Homo sapiens: one gene and its partners. The protein of the gene in region 7 purifies or fractionates together with the protein of the main gene of each other region. This does not show direct contact. Each region holds a gene or a part of one and is shown on either strand. Other genes may lie near its edges. The genes, in order: EN1, SOX5, GPC4, TBCA, MTHFD1, CPNE1 and NFIB.

The links.
Region 1: the proteins of NFIB (region 7) and EN1 purify together in Homo sapiens (co-immunoprecipitation; one large-scale study listed by IntAct). This does not show direct contact.
Region 2: the proteins of NFIB (region 7) and SOX5 purify together in Homo sapiens (co-immunoprecipitation; one large-scale study listed by IntAct). This does not show direct contact.
Region 3: the proteins of NFIB (region 7) and GPC4 purify together in Homo sapiens (affinity purification with mass spectrometry, with the first as the bait; one large-scale study listed by BioGRID). This does not show direct contact.
Region 4: the proteins of NFIB (region 7) and TBCA purify together in Homo sapiens (affinity purification with mass spectrometry, with the first as the bait; one large-scale study listed by BioGRID). This does not show direct contact.
Region 5: the proteins of NFIB (region 7) and MTHFD1 purify together in Homo sapiens (affinity purification with mass spectrometry, with the first as the bait; one large-scale study listed by BioGRID). This does not show direct contact.
Region 6: the proteins of NFIB (region 7) and CPNE1 purify together in Homo sapiens (affinity purification with mass spectrometry, with the first as the bait; one large-scale study listed by BioGRID). This does not show direct contact.

The regions. Positions count from the first base shown.
Region 1 is NC_000002.12:118,841,671-118,844,648, forward strand, and holds the end of EN1 (homeobox protein engrailed-1), read right to left. Parts: intron 1,585-2,978; coding exon 1,268-1,584; 3' UTR 501-1,267; downstream 1-500. UniProt on the Homo sapiens protein: Required for proper formation of the apical ectodermal ridge and correct dorsal-ventral patterning in the limb.
Region 2 is NC_000012.12:23,540,671-23,544,170, forward strand, and holds part of SOX5 (transcription factor SOX-5), read right to left. Parts: intron 2,715-3,500; coding exon 2,541-2,714; intron 1-2,540.
Region 3 is NC_000023.11:133,300,490-133,303,989, forward strand, and holds part of GPC4 (glypican-4 precursor), read right to left. Parts: intron 2,853-3,500; coding exon 2,677-2,852; intron 2,581-2,676; coding exon 2,378-2,580; 3' UTR 1-2,377. UniProt on the Homo sapiens protein: Cell surface proteoglycan that bears heparan sulfate. May be involved in the development of kidney tubules and of the central nervous system.
Region 4 is NC_000005.10:77,706,840-77,710,339, forward strand, and holds part of TBCA (tubulin-specific chaperone A), read right to left. Parts: intron 1,509-3,500; coding exon 1,403-1,508; intron 1-1,402. UniProt on the Homo sapiens protein: Tubulin-folding protein; involved in the early step of the tubulin folding pathway.
Region 5 is NC_000014.9:64,387,029-64,391,152, reverse strand, and holds the start of MTHFD1 (C-1-tetrahydrofolate synthase, cytoplasmic), read right to left. Parts: upstream 2,801-4,124; 5' UTR 2,726-2,800; coding exon 2,685-2,725; intron 1-2,684. UniProt on the Homo sapiens protein: Trifunctional enzyme that catalyzes the interconversion of three forms of one-carbon-substituted tetrahydrofolate: (6R)-5,10-methylene-5,6,7,8-tetrahydrofolate, 5,10-methenyltetrahydrofolate and (6S)-10-formyltetrahydrofolate.
Region 6 is NC_000020.11:35,630,401-35,633,900, forward strand, and holds part of CPNE1 (copine-1), read right to left. Parts: intron 2,524-3,500; coding exon 2,395-2,523; intron 2,297-2,394; coding exon 2,117-2,296; intron 1,986-2,116; coding exon 1,911-1,985; intron 1,835-1,910; coding exon 1,763-1,834; intron 1,626-1,762; coding exon 1,545-1,625; intron 1,378-1,544; coding exon 1,288-1,377; intron 1,179-1,287; coding exon 1,092-1,178; intron 955-1,091; coding exon 868-954; intron 774-867; coding exon 714-773; intron 635-713; coding exon 501-634; intron 396-500; coding exon 341-395; intron 91-340; coding exon 39-90; intron 1-38.
Region 7 is NC_000009.12:14,153,642-14,157,141, forward strand, and holds part of NFIB (nuclear factor 1 B-type), read right to left. Parts: intron 2,253-3,500; coding exon 2,184-2,252; intron 1-2,183.

The DNA of each region.
Region 1 (2,978 bases), on a different chromosome or scaffold from region 7:
TCCAGGCGGCCAAGAGGCCAGGCCAAAGTGCCCCTCGCCCAAGCGGGCTGTCGGGGAGGGAGGAAGGCAGGCCCCCTTCTATCTCTGGATAAAAAAAATCTGCAGCAAAACCTGCACCAGGGGAAATAAAAGAAAGAAAGAAAAAGAAAAGTGCAGGTTGGAGTGAAAAGCAGTTTGTACAGGAGGAGGCCGCCACTGGGCTGGGCCTGGACCGGTGCGGGGAGCTGCCCCGCAGCCCAGGCAGCGTTTCCGAAGCCAGGACTGTGGTTGTCGGCCTTTGAGTTCCCTTGAACGCAATCGGAGACCAGGCGTGTCCCGCCAGACCCTTCAGACCCAGGCTAAACCCAAATCTGGGTCGCGCTTCCCCTTCGCCCTGCATTCGTTGTGCGGTGATCGCAAGGCCCGGCCGGCTCCCCGCCCGGCGTGCGCAGGGGCGCTGGGGCGCTGTGTGCCCGGACCCACGTCCTTCCCGAGCCCGCAAACAGGAGAGCCGCCAGCGCTCGTGAGCACAGTGTACACTTTATTTCAGACTACAGGTTTCTGAACATAATAAAATCTTTGGCTTGTAGCGGCGGTTCAGTCTCGCAGTCTGTGGGGTCGTATTTCTCAACAAGTCTCCGGAAAACGAAAGGGGGGCAGAACAGACAGACCGACAGAAGGGACCCGGGAGGTGGGGGAGAAGAGGTGGGCAGACACGAAAGGAAACACACTCTCGCACACAAAGAAAAGTCCCAGAGAAACCAGGGCCGGCGATGCGGGTCGGGAGGCACCGGAGAAGCAATGACATTCAAATGAAAAAGGCAACGAAAACGAAACTGGGCGGGGGCAGCGAGGCGGTGGGGGAGGGGATAAAATAATTATAATAATTATAATAATTATAACAATAATAATAAAGGAGATTAATAAAAATGTCCAGCAAATAGAGATCGCTACACGTATGTGTTTTCCTTACCTGAAATTAAATATATACAAGGTCGTAAGCGGTTTGGCTAGATAGAGCTTTAAGGAGTTCGCAGTTTCGTCCCTTATACTGGGAATAGAGAATGGATCTTATTTTTCGATAGCACCTGTCCGAGTCTTTCTCCCTTTTCAAAAATGCTGCGTTTCAACGTCATTGTCCATTCTGAGGCTCTCTTTCTGTCTCTCTCGCTCTTTTCCCTGCGCTCCCTCCCTCCTTGGAGCAGATGCTTTCTCCCCCAGCGAGGGGCCGGGAGACGACGGCGGCGGTGCCGGGAGGGGGCGCGGGCGCGGCCCCGGCCTGTGGCGGCTACTCGCTCTCGTCTTTGTCCTGGACCGTGGTGGTGGAGTGGTTGTACAGTCCCTGGGCCATGAGGTGCAGCGCCAGGCCGTTCTTGATGCCTGTGGCTTTCTTGATCTTGGCGCGCTTGTTCTGGAACCAGATCTTGATCTGGGACTCGTTGAGGCTGAGTTCCTGGGCCAGGGTCTGCCGCCGCTGCTCCGTGATGTAGCGGTTTGCCTGGAACTCCGCCTTGAGTCTCTGCAGCTGCTCGGCCGTGAACGCGGTCCGCGGCCGCTTGTCCTCCTTCTCGTTCTTCTTCTTCTTCAGCTTCCTGGTGCGCGGACCTGCAGCGGCGGAGAGGGCCGGGGTGGGGTGGGGGTGGGGACCGAGGGCAGAAGGGAGGGGGGAGAGGGCAAAGGAAGCCGTGAGAATAGCATTGCCGAGCTGGGCCGCGAGCCCCGCGCTTCCGGGGCGATCTCGGAGGCCCTGCTGAACCCCTGGCTCCCTCCCGCCAGCCAATCCCTGGATCGAAGTGCCCCTCACCAGACCACTGGGGTCCCCGGGTTCCCTTTGGGAGGGCAAAGGAGCAGTGAAGGAAAGCTGGTTGAGGTTGTAGGTGCACCCCACACCCCAATTCTCACAGGACAGTCAGGGACAGACCGAAATCACAACATTTCCAAGCCAAGAAGGCAGGAATCCAAGATGAGGAGATATTTGGAGCTCATATGGCCCAGCCCAGAGTTGGGGGTCAGGGGCCTGCTGTCCTCACCGCCCCGGAATAGATAGGACTGGGGCAGTGAGGGCAGGCCCTGGGGGAGTCGCCAGCCTGCAAACAAATCTTCCTCTCCTCCTCAAGAATCATACCTACAGGAGAAACTACAATAAGACCCCATCTGCTTGTAGCTATTGACCTCAGAAAACAACGGGATAGTGAGCCGGCTGGGAGAGGGCTGCTTAGCTCCAAAGTATTTGGTGTCTGCCCCCCTCCCCGCACCCCTCCCTCCCACACACACCTCCTCGCCTTCTTTCTCTTTGGCCTAAAGGAAGCCTTTTCTAGGGTCTCAGGGATGCAGGGACCACCCCTTCTCTGAAGGAGAAAAGGCCCTGATCCATCCTCATGACCCTGGCTCTGGGTTTTCAGCCTTGCCCCTTGGATGGTGCCAATAAGAAAGGGAGGGCCTTCCACATTCCTCTAACCGGCTGCGTGGGGCAGGGTCTCTCTTATCTGGGTCTTCCTTATCTCCCCTTTCAACTGATGCAATTTCAGGATTAAAAACTCCTGAATAACAAAAACAAGCCGGATTGGCTTTCTCTGCCTACTGATGACATTTGCAAGGAGACTGCAGCCCCTTCCCCCACCTATGAGCAAAAAGGAGAGGGAGGGAAGCAGGGACAATCCAGAAAAAAAAAAATGTGCTTTGACCACCAGATAGGAATGGGAAGGGGCCACAGGAAACCTCCTTAGGAAGGTGAAGTTCCCCTCAAATACTAGTCTGGGAGGAGGGCCCACTGAGAAAGGAGGGAGGGAAAGCGGGAAAACCAGGAGAGGATTGAACTGTTGGTGTGTGCCTCAAAAGCCTGCACCTCTGCCCACCTGCTTCCACACCCAAGTCTTCTGGCATTTACTTGCTGGGTCCTGCCTTGGATATGGTAGCTTGCTGAACCAAGTTAAGTCCCTGTCAGGCCTGTTCATCTCTAAAACTGTCTGGAAAGAAGGATCTTTGCCGGCATCTCCAAA
Region 2 (3,500 bases), on a different chromosome or scaffold from region 7:
GCCAAGCAGTAAAAGGTGATTCCTTATGTTAACAATTTCAGCAGAATGGCTTATTAAAACCAGATTTTAGGGTATTATAAAATGCTTAGAAGCCCTTTAAAATGTCAACTACGATCCCCAGAGACTACGTAAAATGTCAACCCAGCTCAAGCGCCTGTTTTAAGCAGAATGAATTAGCGGCATGCTGTCGGAGGCTGTTATCCAAAACAATCAGCAAAGAGGAAAACATCAAGCTTTCTTTGTACTTTTGTATGAAATGGGTCATTTAGAATGATCTTGTGGATATTTGAAGATCACTTATTTATTTAAAGCTGTGACTAAATATTGAGCCCAAAATACCTCAATGTTTTATTTGTTCCTAAATATAAATGTTATATCTTTAAAGAATACATTTTCATCAGAAAGACTGAAATTAGGCAGTATTCTCTTTCATGTTGTCTATTATAATATAATCATATGGTCATTCTAATATTCTTTCCCTCAAATCAGAAGGGAATTCTCATAGCCAGTCATCTCTTTTCCATAGATACTTTTGCTACATTTCCTAAAATATCATTTCTTATCATCAAAACTGATATTTCTCTTATAGTTAAGATAGTTTTAATTAATGATTATCACCTTTTTGGTATTCAGACACAAGAATTGAATAATATAAAGACAGTTTTGAAATCTTAGTATTTAACTTGGTTTTTATTCTGACAATTTTGGATTTCTAATTTGGGAATAACTGATATATTAAAACATGAAATATGCTTACATAAAGTATTCTTTTCTAGAGTTTTCCCAAATGAAACTGGTATGTTGTTTTTTAAAGATAGGAAATTTCACATGGAAGGTAGAATATAGTCACAAAAAATATAGTCACAAAAGGGAAAAATAGATCAGAGCTGGTAGAGATGTAAAAAAATGTGTATTTCCTCTTGATCAGTTCAAGTTTTTGATTATGCATGATATATATTTTTACACACAGATTTTCATATTTTCTATGTATACTACTGAAAGCTTTGCATGTTCATGTCTTTTTAGATAACATTTAGGTGAAAAATGAGACACAATTTTAAGTGGCTAATGGTTTGTTTTGATCCCATTACAAATGCACCTTGTGGACTAGGTGGCATCTATTATCTTTGTTGAGAATATGGGATCATAAAAACATACGGCCGGGCGTGGTGGCTCATGCCTGTAATCCCAGCACTTTGGGAGGCCAAGGTGGGCGGATCACCTGAGGTCAGAACTTCGAGGCCAGCCTGGCCAAAATGGTGAAACCCTCTCTCTGCGAAAATACAAAAGTTAGTTGGGCATGGTGTCCCGCGCCTGTCATCCGAGCTACTCAGGAGGCTGAGGCAGAAGAATTGCTTGAACCCGGGAGGCGGAGGTTGCAGTGAGCCGAGATCACACCACTGCACTCCAGCCTGGGCGGTAAAGCGAGACTCCATCTGCAAAACAAAACCTCATGCATATGTTTGCCATTTATAGATGATCTGTAATGAATCAAAAGTGATACTATTTTTATAAACTCCGTGTAATTCCAAGTGCCTTACGAATTCTAATAAAACTTTAATAATTTTGACAAATTTTGTTACTTATTTGTTAAAACCAACATTTTCTGATAAAATGTTTCTATTCTATTTTTGTCACTTAACTCTTAGAAGTCACAGAGTGAATCATCAAAATTTTCTTAGGTTGTCTAGTATCTGGCCATCAGACAGTGATGAATGACAATGACAGTGATAATGATGTCAGATAAGGCACAAAAGCAATGGAATCTTCTTTTTTTCTTTTTCCCCCTGGGACCTGAACTGGTCTATAATAGGTATCTTTATAATCAGCACCCTTTCTCCCCAACCATTTTTCCTGTGTGCTACAGTCTCTGTGTGGGTAGAGTAAATGCGTACTTTGTTTTCTGTTCAATTGAATGTTGCAATGGCAGAAAAGTATTTAGTATGACTAAAAGTACCTTTAGTACTTAAGGTTACTAAAAGTATAAATGTAAAAATGTACACTCTACATCTTCTTGTGTTCTGAAAATCTAAAACTGATTTTCAATTATAGCACTGGAACAAACATCTTCCCCACCTCCACCCTCACCCCCACAACAAGATGAATTCCGCAAATAAAACTCCTTATCCTTCTGTTACAGAGGATGATGAGAGAGGAAGGAGGCCTTAAGATTAACAGTAAGTTGTCTATAGTATGCAAGGAAATGAATACAAATGATCAGTAGCAATATCTAGTGGCTCATGTGAAAGCAACTTTTTTCTCAGCTTTAGTAAAAATATTTCTAGATTTTTGAAGAAGATAAAGCATTAAAATAATTAGTATGAAGACAAACAGCTACATGAGCTATAGAAATATGGCATATTTCTCAATGGACATAGAATGCTTCATCACCAGAAGAAGCCTCAATGATGATGTTTATTTTCTGGATAAGCAAATAACACGACCTGTATGGCCTCCAAATCCAGGATCCTTCCACAACTGCAGAAAACAGAACAGTACCTTTATTCCATACGTCACTTAGTTCTTAATGGTTTTCTTACCCAATATCTTGCTGATGTTGGAGTTGTGCATGTCAGGAAAGGCTTGAAGGATCTTTCTCCGTTCATCTTTAGCCCACACCATGAAGGCATTCATTGGACGCTTTATGTGGGGTTCATTGCTACCACGCCCTCGGGATTCCCTATAAATTCTTGACTCTGAGACTCCAGCACTTCCTGAAAACAGGAAACATCACTTCGTGTTAGCGTTAAAACTTTTGTCAGCTCTTTTCCTTGCATTCCTATTTTTCAGTCTATTAAGATATCTGAAAAGAAAAAGTACTTCTGATAATGGTACTTCCAGTTCTTAAGACAGATGCTTGTTTATGAAGTTTTTCTGATAAGCCTTGTGGTGGCAAATGTTATATTTGTATTTTTAACCAATTTCTAATCTGTTTTCTCTTTCTTTCAATGGACTGTTTCACCATTTACTTTCAACAGCTCAAAATAAACTCCGATATGTGATTTTTGATGCAATTCGGAAAGAGGATAGTCAGATTAAATCAACAGGCATACCAGTAGTGTAGAAACATTAAATAGGTAAAGAAGCACAAATCAATTTGGCAGAATGGATGATTATAGGGGAGGATATATCTTTGCTACTTAAAGACTGTCTGAACATATAGTACCTTATGTTCTCTTTCTCTCTCCGAGGTTACAAAAATAAAAACACTGACCAAATTTTGAGGTTAAAAACAATATAGGTATTTCCCTGTAATATAATTGGCTTTTCTTTGAAATTATATGCTGACAAATGCATGACATATGCTGATACAGCAATGACAGGTCTGCCCCCCAAAATATATGTAAAACTGGTATGGAAAAGAACAAATGAACAGTTACATTCCTCTAGTTTCTTAAGGAGTCTACAGTCACATGTTTAAGATGAGAAAAATAATAATTTCCTTTGAATTTTCCCCCTAATATTTAAAGTTATCCAAAGAGTCCCATGGACAGTCACAT
Region 3 (3,500 bases), on a different chromosome or scaffold from region 7:
GGGAGTGGGGGTGAGCTTGCCAGCTGCTTAGAAGCCAAGAGTTATCCAGTCAGACCTGAATGGAAAAATCTATGATTTGTTTATTTCATAGTTGAAGTTCAAAAGCAAGAGACAATTTAAATAATAAAAGAGTAACAGGAAAAAATGCAAAGAAAGAAAACAAATCAGTAAGAGTTCAGAAGAACCTTCAAGAATACTTAATTTGGAAAATGTTATTGGTTTAGAGAATTTGACTGGAAGAAAACAGCTGGGCAGAGTTCAAGGTTTTAAATTAAAAACAATCTAACAAGGTCTATGGGGATAACTCTCTGAGCCATATTTTGGAGACCAGATTCATTTCTACCAAGTAAAAGTAATAGCAGTCTAAGCTAAAAAGGAAATTCCTCACAACTGAGGTAGTTACTAAGTATCAGCACATTTTCCAAGTTCTCACAAGGCCCCTTAGCTATTTACAATCTATTTTCCCTTATATATAAATGGAGTGCCTTTTCAATTTTATGTCTTCTGATTTGTTTTAAAAAAAAAACCACTTATACACACCAGCCAGAATATGCCTATTTTATTAACATCATGCTTTAATAAATAACTGGCTACTTCTAATAAAATTAAGCCTCTGTTTACAACAGCCCCCAATATTCCATTTTGACCACTCTGCAGAATTTGGTGTAAAAAGTTGAATGAAATGTAGACCCTGAGCTATCAAGTAATTATGTTTCAATATAAAAATAGAGAATTACTCTTACAACTGAAGATTGAACAATAACACAAACAACCTCTTTGTGGGTTTTAGGTTCGGTAAAATTAGTTGGGATCTTAATGGCTGTCTAAAGCAGGAAGAGACAGAATTTTAGTCTTTCTGAAGACTTCTGGGAACTCCTTTGAAAGTGATTTGTTACATTATCAGAGTTTTATGAGCTATCATTTGGTAAGGACACAAGGAAGGGATTCCCAAGGCAGTTGTTAGTCTTTGGCCTGGGACAACAGATATGGCCATGGCCTTTGCCACTTCACCCACGTGGCTAAAGGTCACCACTAAGATGTAGTATTCTCAGCTCTACCTACTCCCACCCCACCCCATCCCCCAAGAAAAACAACACATACAAAAATCTGGACACCTAGTTCTCCCCTAAGTGGGCTCCTTGGCTGATATCTTGGATCGTAGCACATTGCTGTGAACCATGGCAAGTCCTTTGTTTTACTGATAAGAGGGGGCTAGGTAAGAAAAAGACTCAAATGAGACACCTTATACTCTCTTAAAACAAAAACTGGGATCCCAAAACAAATGGAGATACACATGCACAGACAAAAACTTTGCCCGAGTGTTGACAGCTATTCCCTGAGCCCAGGCTGTACCCCAGTTCTGGCTAGCTCTCAGACAGCTCCCTGTACATAATTGGGTTTGAAATCTCGACCACTCTAACAAAGGATATTAATTCAAATAGGGTCAGTGTGAACATGAAAACTAGCACAGGGTGGGCTAGCTAACCTGCCTGGTTTTAAAAAAAAACACCCCTAAACCCAAGTGTGAACATGTGATAACTGGGACATCCTGAATGCTTTCTATCTTTCAAGGGGGATGATATCCAGAATCTTTTTCTAAATGGGTTACATTTTATGTATAAGTGGGTTCAAGAAATGGACCTATAGTGATCTTAGCTTATGTAATTCAACTCATTCAAAGCAGTAGTCTGCAGTCTCTTCCAACTATCACCAATAAATGAAGTACACATAACCTCCTTCTTGGATTGATGCTTTGAATACAATCTGACAAGTGGCTCAGAAGCCTGCTTGTGCCCTCACATTCTGTCTTAATAATAATTTAAAAAAAAGAAAATCACCTCCACGTCTCTCCAGATAAGGCAACTAAAATAACAGGGAGAAATGGAAATTTTACTGCTTTTTGGGCTTTTTCTTTTAATAAGATAACATGATAAATAAAACCTGCTTCTGTACAGCTATTTAATATTTCAGAAATACGTACATGTTACGTGCCAAGAAGGGACCCTGGTTTGCTTGTAAGAAACAAGGCGAGATCACAGTTGGAAAAAAAAACCCACAAACGAAATGAGAAAAAAACATACAAACAAATAATAGAGTGATAAAATCACAAATGCACAACTAACTATAGTTCTGTACCTACACTGTTAGCCACGTTTAACATGGTTTGGGGGAGCAGGAACCAACTCAATGCACAGTCCCTTTTCCTCCCAAAACTGAATGAGAAAACAAAGTCAGCACTTCTTAAACCAGTGGCCACATAGTAAAAACTGTACATTGTTGTCCATTCATTTAAAAAGCAAAGTCACTAGGATGGTAGAAAAGTGATAACTGGTGCCTTTTAACTTTTTGATGAACACTTTTTCTCAGAGTTTGAGAATTATCTCCACTCTCTCTGCATAACCAGGAACAAGATGCAGAAGACAGTGAGGAGGTAGGCCTGTGCCCCAGGACGGACACCAGCACTGTCGGCTTTCTCATTGGCACTCTTCCCAGCATGGTCAGTGGCATTGTAGTCAAACTCTGAAGGGCACTGCTGATACTCACAGCCACTTCCACTTCCTTCTCCACTACTTTCATCACCTAGTTTAAAAAAAAATGGAATAGAAATTTCATTCCACTTGTTCTCATCAGAAGACATACAAGAGCAATTCGTACTTTCAAACCACAAATGCTTACTGATATCAAAGAAGTCCACGTCGTTCCCATTGTATGCATTCTTCATCTTGCTGGTCATCACTCGAAGAGCCATGATTTGACGAAGGATCAGTATGTCTGGTTTGCTGGTGTCAACCTGGACCTCTGGGTTGTTGCCCTGGTTGGCTAATCCATTTCCTGTCACTGCAAACAGGTACCTGGAATGTAAAATGACCCCAGTAAGATGATTCGTAAAGCGAAAAGATTTTATCTGTCTGCCTCCCAAAGTGCTGGGATTACAGGCGTGAAGATTATGAAGATTATACAAGAGGTTATCAAATACTTCTGCTAGATTCTAGTATTTCCACTAAGCAAAATTAGATGGAAGTTCTTTAATTCCTAATGAACTCTAATCTTTCTTGTTCCTGTGGATTCCTCATTTCTCCAATTTGATGGAAACCTTCTTCAAAGCTATCACAGCACTTTTGGAGGCTAAGGTGGGTGGATCACTTGAGGTCAGGCATTCGAGACCAACCTGGCCAACATAGCGAAACCCTGTCTCTACTAAAAATATGAAAATGAGCCGGGTGTGGTGGTGTGTGCCTGTAATCCCAGATACTCAGGAAGCTGACACAGGAGAATCACTTGAACCCAGGAGGCGAAGGTTGCAGTGAGCCAAGGTTGCACCACTGCATTCCAGCAGCTGAGATTGCAGTGAGGTTGCAATGAGCCAAGATTGTGCCACTGAATTCTAGCAGGGTGACAGTGATACTCTGTTGGAGGAAGGAAGGAAGGAAGGAAGGAAGGAAGGAAGGAAGGAAGGAAGGAAGGAAGCTAGCTATCCCTCTTGAGGAGGATGGTGGGTT
Region 4 (3,500 bases), on a different chromosome or scaffold from region 7:
AAGAAAAAAAGAAATAGGAGATGATGCTGATATTAGATGTGGTTATGAGAAAGAGATAAAAATATCAAGAAGGGACCAACTAAATTTTTGACCTGAGTATCTGGATGAGTGGAGGTACCATTCACTGAGATGAGGAAAAAGAAAGAAGAAATTGTTTTTTGTTTGGGAGAGTAGGTTGGAGTAGTGTGAAATCAAGATTTTAATTTTGAACACCTCAGAGGATATGTCAAGTTTCAAGGTGAAAGTGGTAACTTGTGTCAGATGCTATTGAGGTATTTAAGATGAGGGAAAAAAGAGTAATAACAATGTCACTGATAGTTATAACAAGGGCTAGGGCACATAGTCCACTCTTACAGGAAGGAAAGTGGTACAGGTACAGATGCAGATAGGTTGACAGATTTTGTCGTAAGAATATGAGAAAGTTCCCTAACGGCCTCTATTTTCTCAAGGAATTATGAAGCAAGTGTCAGCTGAGAATGAATGTTCAATATATGCTATCATGGGAATAAAGAAAGTGTTATGGGAGCAAAAAGGAGGGGCACCTAACTCAGTTTGAGGTGAGAGTAGAAGAGACCTCAAGGAAGAACAGAAATTAATAAGGAGAGGGTAGGTAAGGCCAGGAGTAAGAGCATCCCAGACATGCAAAATTTCAGAGGCAAAGAAGAAAGGGCATGTTCAGGGAGCTATAAGGCACCTAAGAGGTTGAGACAGGGATTGGTAAGAAATGAGGTTAGATAAGCAGATGTAACCTCATTTCTTGATTCAAAATCAAGAAGAGCCTTGTATGCAATGTTAAGGCCACTGAAATTTGTCATGAAGACAATCACAAGTAGCCATTGAAAAGTGCAATGCGTATTTTATTTTTGTAGTCTTCACATCAGTGTGGAGACAATATTTGTGAATCTAAATATATAATTAATATAAGATTAGTCCATTTTTATATCTGATACTTAAAATTGGAAAAGACAGTAGAATTTAGCGGTTAAGAGTACAGATACTAGAGCCAGAATGCCTGTGTTCAAATCTTAGCTATGCCAGGTGTGGTGGCTCATGCCTGTAATCCCAGCACTTTAGAGAGTTGAGGTGGGAGAATTGCTTGAGCCAAGAGGTCAAGGCTGCAATGAGCCATGATCACACCACTGCACTCCAGCCTGGATGACAGAGTGAGGCCCTGTTTCAAACAAAACAAAACAAAACAAAACCTCAGCTGTGTCACTTAACAACTATGTGATTTGCGCAGTTATTTAACCTGTGTTTGAGTTTCCTTATCTTTAAATGGAAGTTTTAATAGTAAAGAAGTAAATAATAATATAATCTCAGTCAGAGGACTACTGTAAAAACTACATTAGTTAATATGGCATTCTGTAAATGTTAGCTATTGTTATTTATGATATAATTTTACCTGCTTTTTAATGTCATAATTTTCACCGTCTTCAGCTCTCATTTTTTCAATCTTTTCTTCTTGTTGTTTTGCCTCTTTTTCATACATCACTTTTTCTTTGACCAACCTATAAAAAAGCCAAAAATGTTTTAGAAAATTAGCTTTCTCTCCAGACCATAAGAAAGAAACTGTGTAAATATAAAACATATTATATTTAAAATACCAAAGTAGATATACTAGATGGGGGGAGGAAGGAACAGAAGAAAAATAGTTTAGTCATAAATATAAGCATGATCCTCATGCTCTTAAGTCCTATACCTGCCTAACGTAAGTGCAATCTATCAAAGCATGAAATTCTTTTTTTTCTTTGAGACAGTCTCGCTCTGTCTCCCAGGCTGGAGTGCAGTGGCGAGATCTTGGCTCACTGCAAGCTCTGCCTCCCGGGTTCATGCCATTCTCCTGCCTCAGCCTCCCGAGTAGCTGAGACTACAGGCACCCGTCACCACGCCCGGCTAATATTTTGTATTTTTAGTAGAGATGGGGTTTCACCATGTTAGCCAGGATGGTCTCAATCTCCCGACCTTGTGATCCACCAGCCTCGGCCTCCCAAAGTGCTGGGATTACAGGCATGAGCCACCGTGCCTGGCCCAAAGCATGAAATTCTTAATTTTTAAATTAAAAACCCACTTCAGTATATTATAATTACAATGTGAAAGCGATACTCAAAATTAGTATATACCAATATATATTAATACAACTGTCTTTTTTTTTTTTTTTTTAAATATGTCTTCCAAACCTTTATACATGTATCTGAAACAGCACAATGATAAAAGCTCAGTTTACTGGCAGGGGAAAATTCAGTAGATTGCATGTCAAATCCAAAACAAAGAAAGACTGGATTATTTTTTAACAACAAAATCGTTTAACAAGTATTTATTGTGCGTTTAATTTTATGCCAGACTTTCCTTGTGCAAGGAGCTGGGATAGATGCAGTTCTGTCACAGACAAGTGGTGGAAACAAACTAGTATTTACTTACTAAAGTAAGAAAAAGTATTTTAAAAGAAGTACATCAGGAAAAGTTTCAACAATAAGAAATACTGCAATACAAAGTTCTACTGATTATCCCACAGATAATCCAAATTATATTAATCATAATAGCTCAATCTTCCCTAATTCTGGTTGTTTAAAGTTGTAATATAAAAGTATAGTCTAAGAAAATATTAACATTCCTATATACACAGTATCTAAAGAGCAGAAGAAAAAGCTTTCATAGCACATATGTAATAAAAATAGCTTTCTCCATCTGGCTGTTGGCAAGATGGCAAGGATGCAGAGAAATTGGAGCCATCAAACATTGCTGGATGGCAATCAAAATTGGTATAGTAGCTTTAGGAAAGTTTAACTATTCCTCAAAAAGTTAAACAGAGTAACCATATGTCCTGACAATTCCATTTCTAGGTACATACCCTAGAAAAATAAAAATATATGCCCACAGAAAACATGTCTATGGATGTTTACAGCAACATTATGCAAGACAGGCAAAATGTGGAAGTCCAATAATCAATGGAAAATGTGGTATATCCAGAAAACAGAATATTGGGCAATAAAAAACATAAAGTGCTGATTCAAGCCACAACATGGATGAACCCTGAAAACATGCTAAGTAAAAAAGAAGTCTGACATAAAAGGCTACATATTGTATGATTTTATTACAGGACATATCCAGAACGGGCAAATCTATAGAAACGTAAAGTAGATTAGTGGTTGCTTAGGACTGGGGACAACAGGGGAATTGGAAAGGTGATAGCTAAAGGGTATAAGGTTTCTTTTGGGGGTAAGAAACATGTTCTAAAAATGATTGTGGTGATAGTTGCACAACTCTGTGAATCTACTAAAAGCCAGTAAACTGTAGACTTAAAATGGGTTAATTGTATGGTATGTGAATTATATCTCAATAAAGCTGTTGGCAAAAAGGAAAAAAAAGCTGTGACCACAAAGTCAGCTTCAGGGGAAAGCTGCAAGTACTGATACATTCAAGCATGACAACAGAAACATGTGAATGTCAGATACAGAAATCTGCATTTGATTTATAATTTAAAATTGTTTTAGCAATAATTT
Region 5 (4,124 bases), on a different chromosome or scaffold from region 7:
AAAAGAAAAGCTTACGAAATTCCTTTTAGCAAGTAGTAAGTGCTGGTTAGAATGAAAAACATCATATACTGGGTGAAGACCTTAGTTTTAGTTGAGCCATTGCCATTCACCCTTGGACAAATCACATCACTTTTCTGGCCTCAAATGATTTCCTAATCCGCAGGATGGAATGTGGGAAGTGGGCTGGATTTTTAAGAAATTCTAGGACCGGTGCAGTGGCTCATGCCTGTAATCCCAGCACTTTGGGAGGCCGAGGTGGGTGGATCACATGGGGTCAGGAGTTACAGACCAGCCTGACCAACATGGTGAAAGCCCGTCTCTACTAAAAATACAAAAATTAGCCGGACGGGGTGGCACACACCTGTAGTCTCAGCTACTCGGGAGGCTGAGGCAGGAGAATCGCTTGAACCTGGGAGGTGGAGGTTGCAGTGAGCCAAGATCATGCCATTGCACTCCAGCCTGGGCAACAAGAGTGAAACTCTGTCTCAAACAAACAAACAAACTAGCTGGACATGGTGGCGGACGCCTGTAATCCCAGCTACTTGGGAGGCTGAGGCAGGAGAATCGCTTGAACCCAGGAGGCAGAGGTTGCAGTGAGCCGAGATCACGCCATTGTACTCCAGTCTGGGCGACGAGTGAAACTCCATCTCAAAAAAAAAAATTAGCTAGGCGTGATGGCGGGCACCTGTAATCCCAGGTACTCAGGAGGCTGATATGAGAGAATTGCTTGTATGCAGGAGGCAGAGGTTGCAGTGAGCCAAGATTGGACACAGCAAGACTTCATCTCAAAAAAAAAAATAGATCTCAAGGCAGCAGCTACCATGTAAAAAAAAAAAAAGATAATGAATCATTCATATATACATTAACTAATTACTGATTATTAATACAACATATATCGAATACTTATTATGTGCCAGGAAGAATTATAAATGATCATCTGTTAGGAACCCATTTAATTCTACTAACATCCCAATGACCTAGACATTACTTTTACTTAACATTTGAGGAAACTTTGGCACAGAAAGGTTAATTAATTTGCTTAAAACCACACAAGTAGTAAGGCAGGAAACAGGGTTTCCAGGTGTTTAGGATATAGACAAAAATAAGACAATACATGTATTTGCCCTTATGGAGTTGATAAACATATTTAATTTGCTCTCCAATTAACGAAAGTATATTCAGTGAGCACCTATTCTCAGTACTGGCCCAGATGCATTATTATTGTACTAAATTATCTGCACTATTATTATGCACTAAATTATCTCTTCACAATCAGTCTTTCTAAAAGGAAGATTTTTATATTAAAACAAAAAGCCACTGGAAAAGGAAGTAAGTTTGAATACAAGCAAACAAAAACAGAAAGTAAAGCAGAAATACAGTTTAGCAAGCCACATGTTGAAAAGCACTAAGCAGTAAGTATTGTGATTTCTTTTTTTTTTTTTCTTAGACGGAGTTTCGCTCTTGTTGCCCAGGCTGGAGTGCAATGGCGCATCTCAGCTCACTGCAACCTCTGCCCCCCAGGTTCAAGTGATTCTCCTGCCTCAGCCTCCCAAGTAGCTGGGATTACAGATGCCTGCCACCACACTCGGCTAATTTTTTGTATTTTTAGTAGAGATGGGGTTTCACCATTTTGGATAGGCTGGTCTTGAACTCCAGACCTCAGGTGATCCACCCACCTCGGCCTCCCAAAGTGCTGGGATTACAGGCATGAGCCACTGGGCCCGGACTTTTCACCACCGATGACTTTGTAATTCACTCAAAAACCTATTACAAAGTTAGGAGTTACAGGACAATTACAATTTAGTAACTGCTGTGGCTGGCAACAGTTACTTACATAACGGGTGATGTGAAAGGTCCCAAGAGCAAACTCAGTAAGGTCACACAGAATATATCTTTCCCTCCTTCATCTACTAGAGGGAATATATTTTTCCCTCTTCCTTCTACTCTCATTTTTCCTCACCAGTCACCTCCCAGACAAAAAGCAGCCAGTGTTACTTCCTGGGAGTAAAGCTGGCAACGATACCCACTAATTAAGCATTCAGATGTCCCGCAAGGGTAGAACAGGCAGAGGTCAAGTGGAATGCAGAATATTCTCAGGACTCAGGAGCCAAATTACGTTTCAAGTAACTCTAGGACCAGGGCAGAGAGATGGCTGTTAGAGAGAAGCACGAGATTGAAGAGAAAGGAAAAATGTATTAGATTTCACTTAGCGTATGATAAGACTATGGTATAGTGGGAAAAGCTATGAGCTGGAAGGACCCTCTGTCATTATCAGCCTTGTAGTCTTGTCAAGCCTTGTCACCTCACTAGTCTCCATCTACTCACCTCCAAATTAACGGGAATTAAGTAGATTGGATTTCTGAGTTCTGACTAGGGGGGCTCCAGGAAGCCGCAACTACCCACTCTCCCGGCAGAAAGTCACCAGCAGCTGCGCGTTTGGGAGCATAGTCGGCACAGGACTTTTCCCCGAAGCACAGGAGCCAGCGGCTACAGCCACTAGGCAGTCCACTTGCAAACGCAGGTTGTGCCCGGGTTCTCTTTCTTTGGCTGCAGGTCTTCAGGTGTTATGGGCCTAACTCTTCCGCTACAAGTGTCCCTCCCGCAAAAAATGGGTCCGGGGGACCTGCACACCCTCAGAGCCCTCGTCCACAGCCCCACACTCAACAACAATGTCAGGTGCTTACGCGGAGATCTCCTTCCCGTTCAGGATTTCTGCTGGCGCCATGGCCTTTATTAGTCCGCTGCCCACGATGGACACCACCAATATCGAGGTTCCACTCCCTCCGCAGCCAAGCAGGACAACCCAACCCACGTGCTTAGGGACTGGCCAGGGGATCACACTACTGCGCCTGCGCCCCTGCCCGCTTCTCCCCCTGCAGACGCGGTGGCGCATGCGCAGTTCGGAAGGACCCGAGTCCCTTAACTAACCGAGAGCTAACAGGTCGGGGACTGCGGGACGGAAGAGGGAGGGGAAGATGAAGAAAATCGGTGATGAATGGCTGGCGGAAATGATTGGCGGAAAGAAAGAGCCAGTTCACAGTGCGCCTTTGTATTCGGCGGGAAACCCGGCCGAAGAGGGAGCTGGAAAGGACTCCGGAATCCGGCCGTAATTCCAGCCAATCAGGGAGTAGAGTTGCGGGGCGGGGTTGGGGCGGGGCAGTCTCGCGGGAGATAGTTTCGCGGGTTCGGGAGGCGAGTCTCCGGTTTCCGCCCAGTCTCTGGGGACGCGGTGGCGGGGTCTGAATCGCCTGGCTTCCAGGGAGTTTTGGGCGGGTCCCCGCACGGGAGCGTGGCAGGCGCTGGACTCGACAGCAGATGTGGAACTGGAGAGCTTGGCGCGCCCTCATACTTTGTCACACACCTACGCCACCAGACTGGGGTCGGGCCCCTCCGCGTTCTGCTCTGGAGGGCCTGGGTCTGGGCCCAGCATAGCGCTTTTAGAATCTCCTCAGCTGAATCTGACGCTCAGCCGTAGGTGAAGCTTAGCCCGCTGTTTCAGGCCCCGCCGATCTGGAAGGAGTGTCAGAGCTGGAGCGCGCGTGGCCTCATCGGTGTTGGGGTCACCCCGGGGTTGCCAGGGCTCATGGAGGGTCGTAGTCTGGATTTTGTCACCCCCACGTCCCCGCCCCGCAGCAAGTCTGGGGTTGGAGAACTCACGCGGTCTTCGTAAGCTACATGCCAGTTGACCCTCGAGGAGGGATGCTCCCTCCCCTTAAGCGTCCACGCTGGAGAAGGAGTAAGATGGACAATTGCCTGGGGAGCCTGACAGGGCGGTGGCAGCTGGGATGCTGGAGAGGACTGGCCCCTTGTGTTACTGAGTCCAAGGAATATGCTTGCTCTGCTCTAGGAACCGCGTTCAGGTTACAGTCATCCCAGTAGAGTCCTGAAGATGCGTGGTTCAGGTCACTTAGGACTTGACCAGATACCGGGTTTCTTTTACAAGCCGTTTACTACTGGCAGAGCTCATCTAAAACTTTTTTTGTTTGTTTGTTTGAGACGGAGTCTCATTCTGTCGCCCAGGCTGGAGTGCAGTGGCACGATTTTGGCTCACTGCAACCTCCGCTTCCCGGGTTCAAGCAGTTCTCTGCCTCAGCCTCCCGAGTAGCTGGGATTACAGGCACCAC
Region 6 (3,500 bases), on a different chromosome or scaffold from region 7:
GTGGACAGACCTGCCTCAGGGTGGATGGGGAAACTTACCTGCACAGTAGGGGTTACTGGGGTTGAAATTCAAGGCAAATTCATGCGAGACCTGGAGACAAGAATGAAAATGAGGTTCTTTCCCCATGACCTCTGCTAAGAATGAAAAAGGACACTGGCGTGTGCCAAGATTCCTATAGGAGCTATGGAGTCCTGAGCACTTGCTGTCTACGTGCCTGCAGGAATCCAACCCTGCATCTCCTCTTAAAGCTGAGTGCCAAGTAGCAAGTAAATTTACCACATCCCCCAAAATCAGGACCCTGAAACTGAAAACAGGAGTGGCAGAAAGAGAGGGAGCTCACCTGCCAGTCAGGGGGAACCTGGGCCCCAAATCCAAATGCAGGGAACAGCTTGTCTCTGTGGGAGGACAGTGTATTGGGCAAAAGGCAGTGAGGGGACTGTAAGCTCAGAGGCTGAAGCATCTGCAGGGAGCGGGTATAGCCCAGAGAAGCAGGTACTCACGAGTCATAGTCCTGAACCACGCTGCCCACACTCCACAGTGCCATCAGGTACTCATTGACCCCTGTTGGACTCAGGTAGTGTAGGGAGTCAGGTGAGGAGGGGTCTCCATTGGAGCCAGTGAAGTCCACGCCCACCTGGGAGGAGGTGAGGAAGGCAGCTAAAGGCCACCCTGAGCCCCAGACCTGTTCTCTTGCCCTTGGTAAAGTAACTTACAGTGAAGTTGATCTGACAGCCTCCCATCACATAGTCCAGAAAGGAGTACTCTGTTTCTACCTGCAAATGAAACCAGGGTCATGCCTGGGGTGATAGCAGTTGGTGTCATGGAGCTCAGGAATCAGAGCCTTGGTTACATGGGCTTTTGTCTCACCCGACAAATCTTGACACGGATAGTTCCAGAGTTCTTGTAGCTTTTCTTTTTCTGCTGCTTCTCAGGGTGGATGCATTCAAACTCAGCCTGGTGAGGACAGAAAAATTAGGGTAGGAAATTCTCAGAGCATCAGTCAAGGACTCGAGCTGCCTTCTCCTTCCTCTCTCCCACAAGCTTCAGCTATCTAGGCCCATTTCCACACCCCTGGCAAGACCAGCACTCACCGGGACTGCCTGCAGCTGGGCCAAGCTGGTGTGGAAGGTACCGATGAGATCATGTGACCCGTCACTGTCATAATCGGAGCATTGCACCTGAGGGAAAGGTGTGTGTGGACATAAACAAGCCAGGTGGCAGATGAGAATAAGTCCCTCCCCAGGTTCTCTTCTCCAGCGCAGTCCACTTAGGGGGCAAGCTCCTCACCTGGATGGGTGTGCTGGGGTTCCCACCACAGAAATGCTGAACGGGGACTGAGAAACGCTTCCATGTAGGGTTCAGGTTGTTCTTGATGACCTGAAGGTGGAGGCCAAGGCCTCCAGTGAGCTCTGGCATGGCCCCCTGAGGAGCTGCCACACTTCTCTACCCACCTGCAGTCTCTTTCTGAGTTCCAAACCTTGCTAGTCACAGGCCCCAGGAGATTATCTCCTACCCCAGCCCACCCAATCCCAGGGGTCTCATACCTCAGATCTGTACACCAGGTGCCATTTCCCATCACCCTGGCGGAAGAACTCCAGAAATGGATCTGATTTTCCCAGGAAGTCCTGCCAATGCGAGACCCCAGTTACAAGACTCAGGAACAAACAACCATTATGCCATCCCTCTGTCCACACCCCCATCCCCCATACACCATCCTTGGCCCCTTAACTCTTGGATTACCAGGGCCTACTTCCAGACACACCTTCTTATCTAGGTTTCTGGCCTCTACCTCCATGGTTACTACACGATTGTCCTTTAATTCCTGAGCTGAGACCTAGGTAGGGGAGACTACATCACCTCATGAATTCATTGATGTTAAGTCCCTCCTCAACCCTTGCTGGGTTCCTTACCGTGATGGTCCCCCGCCCAGCAGGTTTTCCAGGCTTCAGCATCAAGGGGAGAGTCAGTACCTGGCTGGACACAATCTGGGGAAAAGCAGGGAAGGGAGTTTCAGGATAACAGGCAGGGTTAGGTCCTGCTTGCCCCCTACCTCCAGGCAGGCTAGGTTGTCTCACAGACCTGCATCTGAAGGATCCTAATCCCCAGCCCTACATACCTGTCCTAGGGAACACTCAGCACCCCCTAGGAAGTCATCATCCCTCAGCTCTGGCGTCTTGTTGTCTATGTCATAGATTCCAAAGCGTAGCTTCTGGACTGTCTCAAAGCGGTACTCAAGCTGTAGAGTCTTGGAGAACTCAGGGCTTGAGCAGTTCCGCACCCGTTCAGTCCGGCCAAGCTGTGGGCAGAGGCCAGTAAGCATCACAGTCACAGCCTCCACCCCAAAACACAATCCTAGCCTCCCTCCACAACCTTAACCTCCATAATCCGCCTCACCTCAGCCCAGCTGCCCCCTCCCACATCCTGTAAAAGGACGCAGAGTGGGTCAGACTTGGAGCCGATGTCCTTGTCAATGAGATGGTCACAGGAAATGGACAGCTGAACCAAGGTCACGCAGTGGGCCATCTGAGGGAAAAGGAGCTGGGTCAAGCACCAGGGAGCCTTCTCTCCCCTTCCCCGACTACAGGTCCCAGCTTGGGAAGGCCAGCAGGCATCACCCAGGCAGGGCTGAGCATACGTCCACCCCCGTGACACCCAAGGAAGAGAAGGCCTCATAGCCTCCAAACCCCTCCACCCCTAGGTGAGCTCACTGGCACAGAAGATGGCAGATACAACCAACCCTGGTCTGAAGATATTGAAAAGGGGTACTAGCCTCCATCTACAACTGTGACCCCAAACTATCCTCACCCTAAAATTTGTCTTAATCCCAATAGGGCTGTCCAAACCCAGACTCTAATCTTGGTCTTTGCAAAGACCAATAAATCTTTCTGACCCCCTTACTGGCCCCAGGCCAGACCCTAATCCAAGTTCTGATCCTAACATAACCCCAAATATAACTATGATCCAGATAATATCCTCCACAAATTATCTTCTTCCAATAATTTCTCACTAACCCTGGGGATCTAACTCTTGTGGTGGAGTTATGATCCCCCTACTAATTCTCCTCACCTCTACTGCTAATGTTCAACTCCTCACTATTTCCACTGCTGCTGCCCAATCTAAGCCATCACTGTTTGTCACCTGGCTTACAGCATTAGCCTCTTCAACTGGTCTCCCTTATTCTATGCTGTCTCCACCTCCGTTCCCCCATGTCCACCCCAACAGGCTATTCTAAATACAGCAATCAGGGCGATCCTATTAAAACATAAGTGAGGCCGGACACAGTGGCTCATGCCTGTAATCCTGGCACTTTGGGAGGCCAAGGTGGGCAGATCACTTGAGGTCAGGAGTTTGAGACCAGCCTGGCCAACATGGTGAAACCCCGTCTCTACTAAAAAAAAAAATACAAAAATTAGCCAGGCATGTTGGCGTGTGCCTATAATCCTGGCTACTCAGGAGGCTGAGGCAGGAGAATTGCTTGAACCCAGGAGGTGGAGGTTGCA
Region 7 (3,500 bases):
TGAATGGCTTCATTAGCTAAAGTCAACATACACATCAGTGGGTCTTATGATTGTAAAACCCTAGAGGACTGAAAGCACTAGCATACTGTAAACCCTCAAGAAGTCAGAATTTGTGATACACACATAGTGTTGTGCTGAAGTTTATGTTTACTTAGCAAACCCCTATTTCATAAATAATGAAGTTTAATTGTGTAAACAAAGATTATGATGCGGATATATTAAAACACTTAGGAGGAGAACTTATCAGGCCTTTCAGAGACACCTATTTACATATGGAGGAGAAAATAAATGTTTGCTGAATAAATTACGTAATGAATATAGATAATTAATGTGCTAATTACAAATCAGTAATGTTTGTTATAACAAATAACCTAAAAGTTTCTAGGATATGACATTATAAGTTAAGAATGAATGAATGAAGTATATTAAATTTACCTTGGTTTTGAACTGTTCTAGAAAGATAATTTTCATCTTTGTTTTAATGTTTGAAATTCAGATTTTTCAAAATATCTATCTGGGCTTTTGAAGGTTCTAATGTGGTTCTCCTTTGACAGCCCTTAGCATAATATTACCTATCATGAGGTACTAAATAAATATTTTCTGACAGCTGACTCTACTGCCCTACTCCTAAGAAGGATGAAAATATACCATTGAACTTGAACTCAGAGAAGTACAAATTTAAGCAAATAATTTAATAAGCCTCCTAACTGGAGCACCATAAGCCTTTCCGCTAAAGAAGAGTATGGGGAAGACACACACACCCCTTCAGATAACCCCTGTCTTACCTGATGCTACAAAGTGCTACTGGTAAGTCAGGCATATTTCTTCCCAAATTAAAAGTGAAAACTTTCAAATGTTGGATACCTTTGGATATCACATATTGATCTGGAAAAACACATTAAGGTACACTGCCTTGGACAATCTCCTTGCCCATCGAATACACACCCTGGGGCTACCAGAATACAGGATATTTGTGTTTCTTCTCCTACACTGCCACCATGTAAAAAGACCCATGAGAGAAGTCTTTTGGGCATACATTTATCCACTCTAGAATTATACCAGAAAGGATAAACTACTTAAGATCTTAAACGTTCATATGTATCACTCCCTGCTATACATGCTATTTGCACTGTTCACTTTAGAAATGTGAGCTATTTGAGGAACTACGGTTCAAAAGACAGTCAGTGATAGCGTGAAGATTCCTTTACTGAACAACAAGACTCTAAAACACTGCTTATTCTTATCCTCAGTAACTCGATTACTCTTTGTTCTTTCTGGATCATCATAATTCTTATTCATGACCTCTAAATATGACCCAAATGAGAAACACAACTTAGGCAGGTATCAGAGTGTGACTACATCATCTGAATAACATCACTCCGAAGTGTGATGCATTCTATCAAAATGTCAGGTGAAAATATACCCTTCAAAGTTACATAAATAAGCTAAATCAGTGAAGGGAGTATGAAGAAAGGAGTCACCTTCTTTAACATAATTAGTACATATAGATCTGCATCTTGGATATGTTTGTACATGCTAGTAATAAGTAAAAGAGTTAATCAAGGTAACGTCCCCTTTGCTTAGGTAGCCTGCCAGGTGAGCTTAGCCTAGAAAAATCTGATCCAGCCTGCTAAGAATGGTGTCTCAGGTGAAGTGGCCAGTTAAAACAATTGGACATTGTTTTGGATAACAATGCTTTCTATCTATATCCAACTACAATCTGCAAAGTTAATTTCTGCATCCCTCTACACTCTGCACGTTAGTGTGTATATCCTGTGCATCTCCAACCCCCACCAAAATGTTAGTAAAATGAAAAAGCACTTATCTACAGGAAACTTATGTGGGTTATCATAACAACATAGAGTACATTTAATTAATCACACTTCCTTTGATATAAATGGCCATCTATGGTCATGCAGAGAACAGTGAATTAAATGAATACCAATAACATGGCAATCAGAAAAACCCCAAAATTATTTTTGTACAACAAAAAGTTTTGATGATTTGAATGCAAACATTTTAGAAAATCAAGCAAAATATATTGTTATTTCATCAAAGGTTTTAAGATTTTAATTCAAATTTTCCTAATATGTGGTCACTCTTTATACTACATTTAAGGTTCAAAATATAAAGTATTTTAAATCATACTGCATGCTTAAGTAGTAACAAAACAATTTACTTACTTCTGGATACTCTTACAAGTTCTGATACATTGAAGACTCCAGATTTTACAAAACTATCCTCAAGGTAACCTGAAAATAAATATTAAAGGAAAAATGATCAATATAAGCAGAAAGTAAAATAAATGATTATACACTAGAATTTAAGTGTTTTAAAGCCAATGGTTTGAACAAAAACCAAATATGCTTACAATAAGGACTTTAAAAAATGACTCTTAGGAATGCAAATTAGGTTTGTTTAAACAAAAATAAAAAGTTTAGATACCAAATAATCTCTTAGGAAAATTTTTTCTTCCCTTTCTAAAAGTACAGGTTTATTGATGCGGTTTGATTTGCCATGGCCCATGCATACAGAATGGTCTGTGGGCTCTCAGTGAATGCTTTTGACTCGGTAGCACCTGGTAGACTAAAGCGAAAAATGAAAGAAAGAAAAAGGAAACCACAACCACAATTAGCACCTTGCTGGAATAATGTCAAAGATCTCTTAAAGCCACCGTTCTTTTGTAAACCCTTCTCTGATGAAAGAAAAGTGAACTGCTGTTACCAGCACCCCGACCCTTGTTCCAGGGTCACTAATAACATAAAAAGCAGAACTTGTATATACAGCAAATACAGAACTTTGCGTTGACCTATTTCTGGGCATCTTTAATATACGTTGCACGATTTCACTGCTTTCCTCACCCTTGCTACTATTCCACTGGACTCCTTTTATTTCAAGAATTAGACAACTTTTCTGGCAAATGGTGGTGAATCCAGGCCTCTGGGAATGCCACATGACCCTTAAGTCACACCGGGGCAGGGTCCACAGTGGCCATGGAGCCTGCTTGCTAGCTGGTCTATGTCCAAAACTAGAGATGAGAACTCCCACAAACAACAGTAACCCTGCACCCAGCCCACCCCATTCTCATCTATGTTAAGGGGGTGTAATGAGTGTGAGGAATACCTTAGCAGGGGAGGTTATGGCCTACTTGCTTCTGTCCTAGGGTGAGAATAAGTTTGAAAATCCTCAGAATTGAAATACATCTGAGAAACAAACAAACAAAACTAGATTCTAAGAACTGGCAATTTGACTGGATTTTACATAAAGCTTCAGGGCTGACCAAGGAATTAGATGCAGTTCAGAGATGTGAAGCATGGGTAGTGCAGCAACATGGAGCACTGAAATCAAAGAGCTGGGATTTGAATCCTAGCCACAGATGACCAGTTATGAAATCTTGGCTAGGTTATTAGTCCTCTTTTTGCCTCAGATTCCTCACTTAACAAATTGGAGACAATAAAAATCACCTATCTTATAGAGTTGTTACTACTGGAGATAAAAAT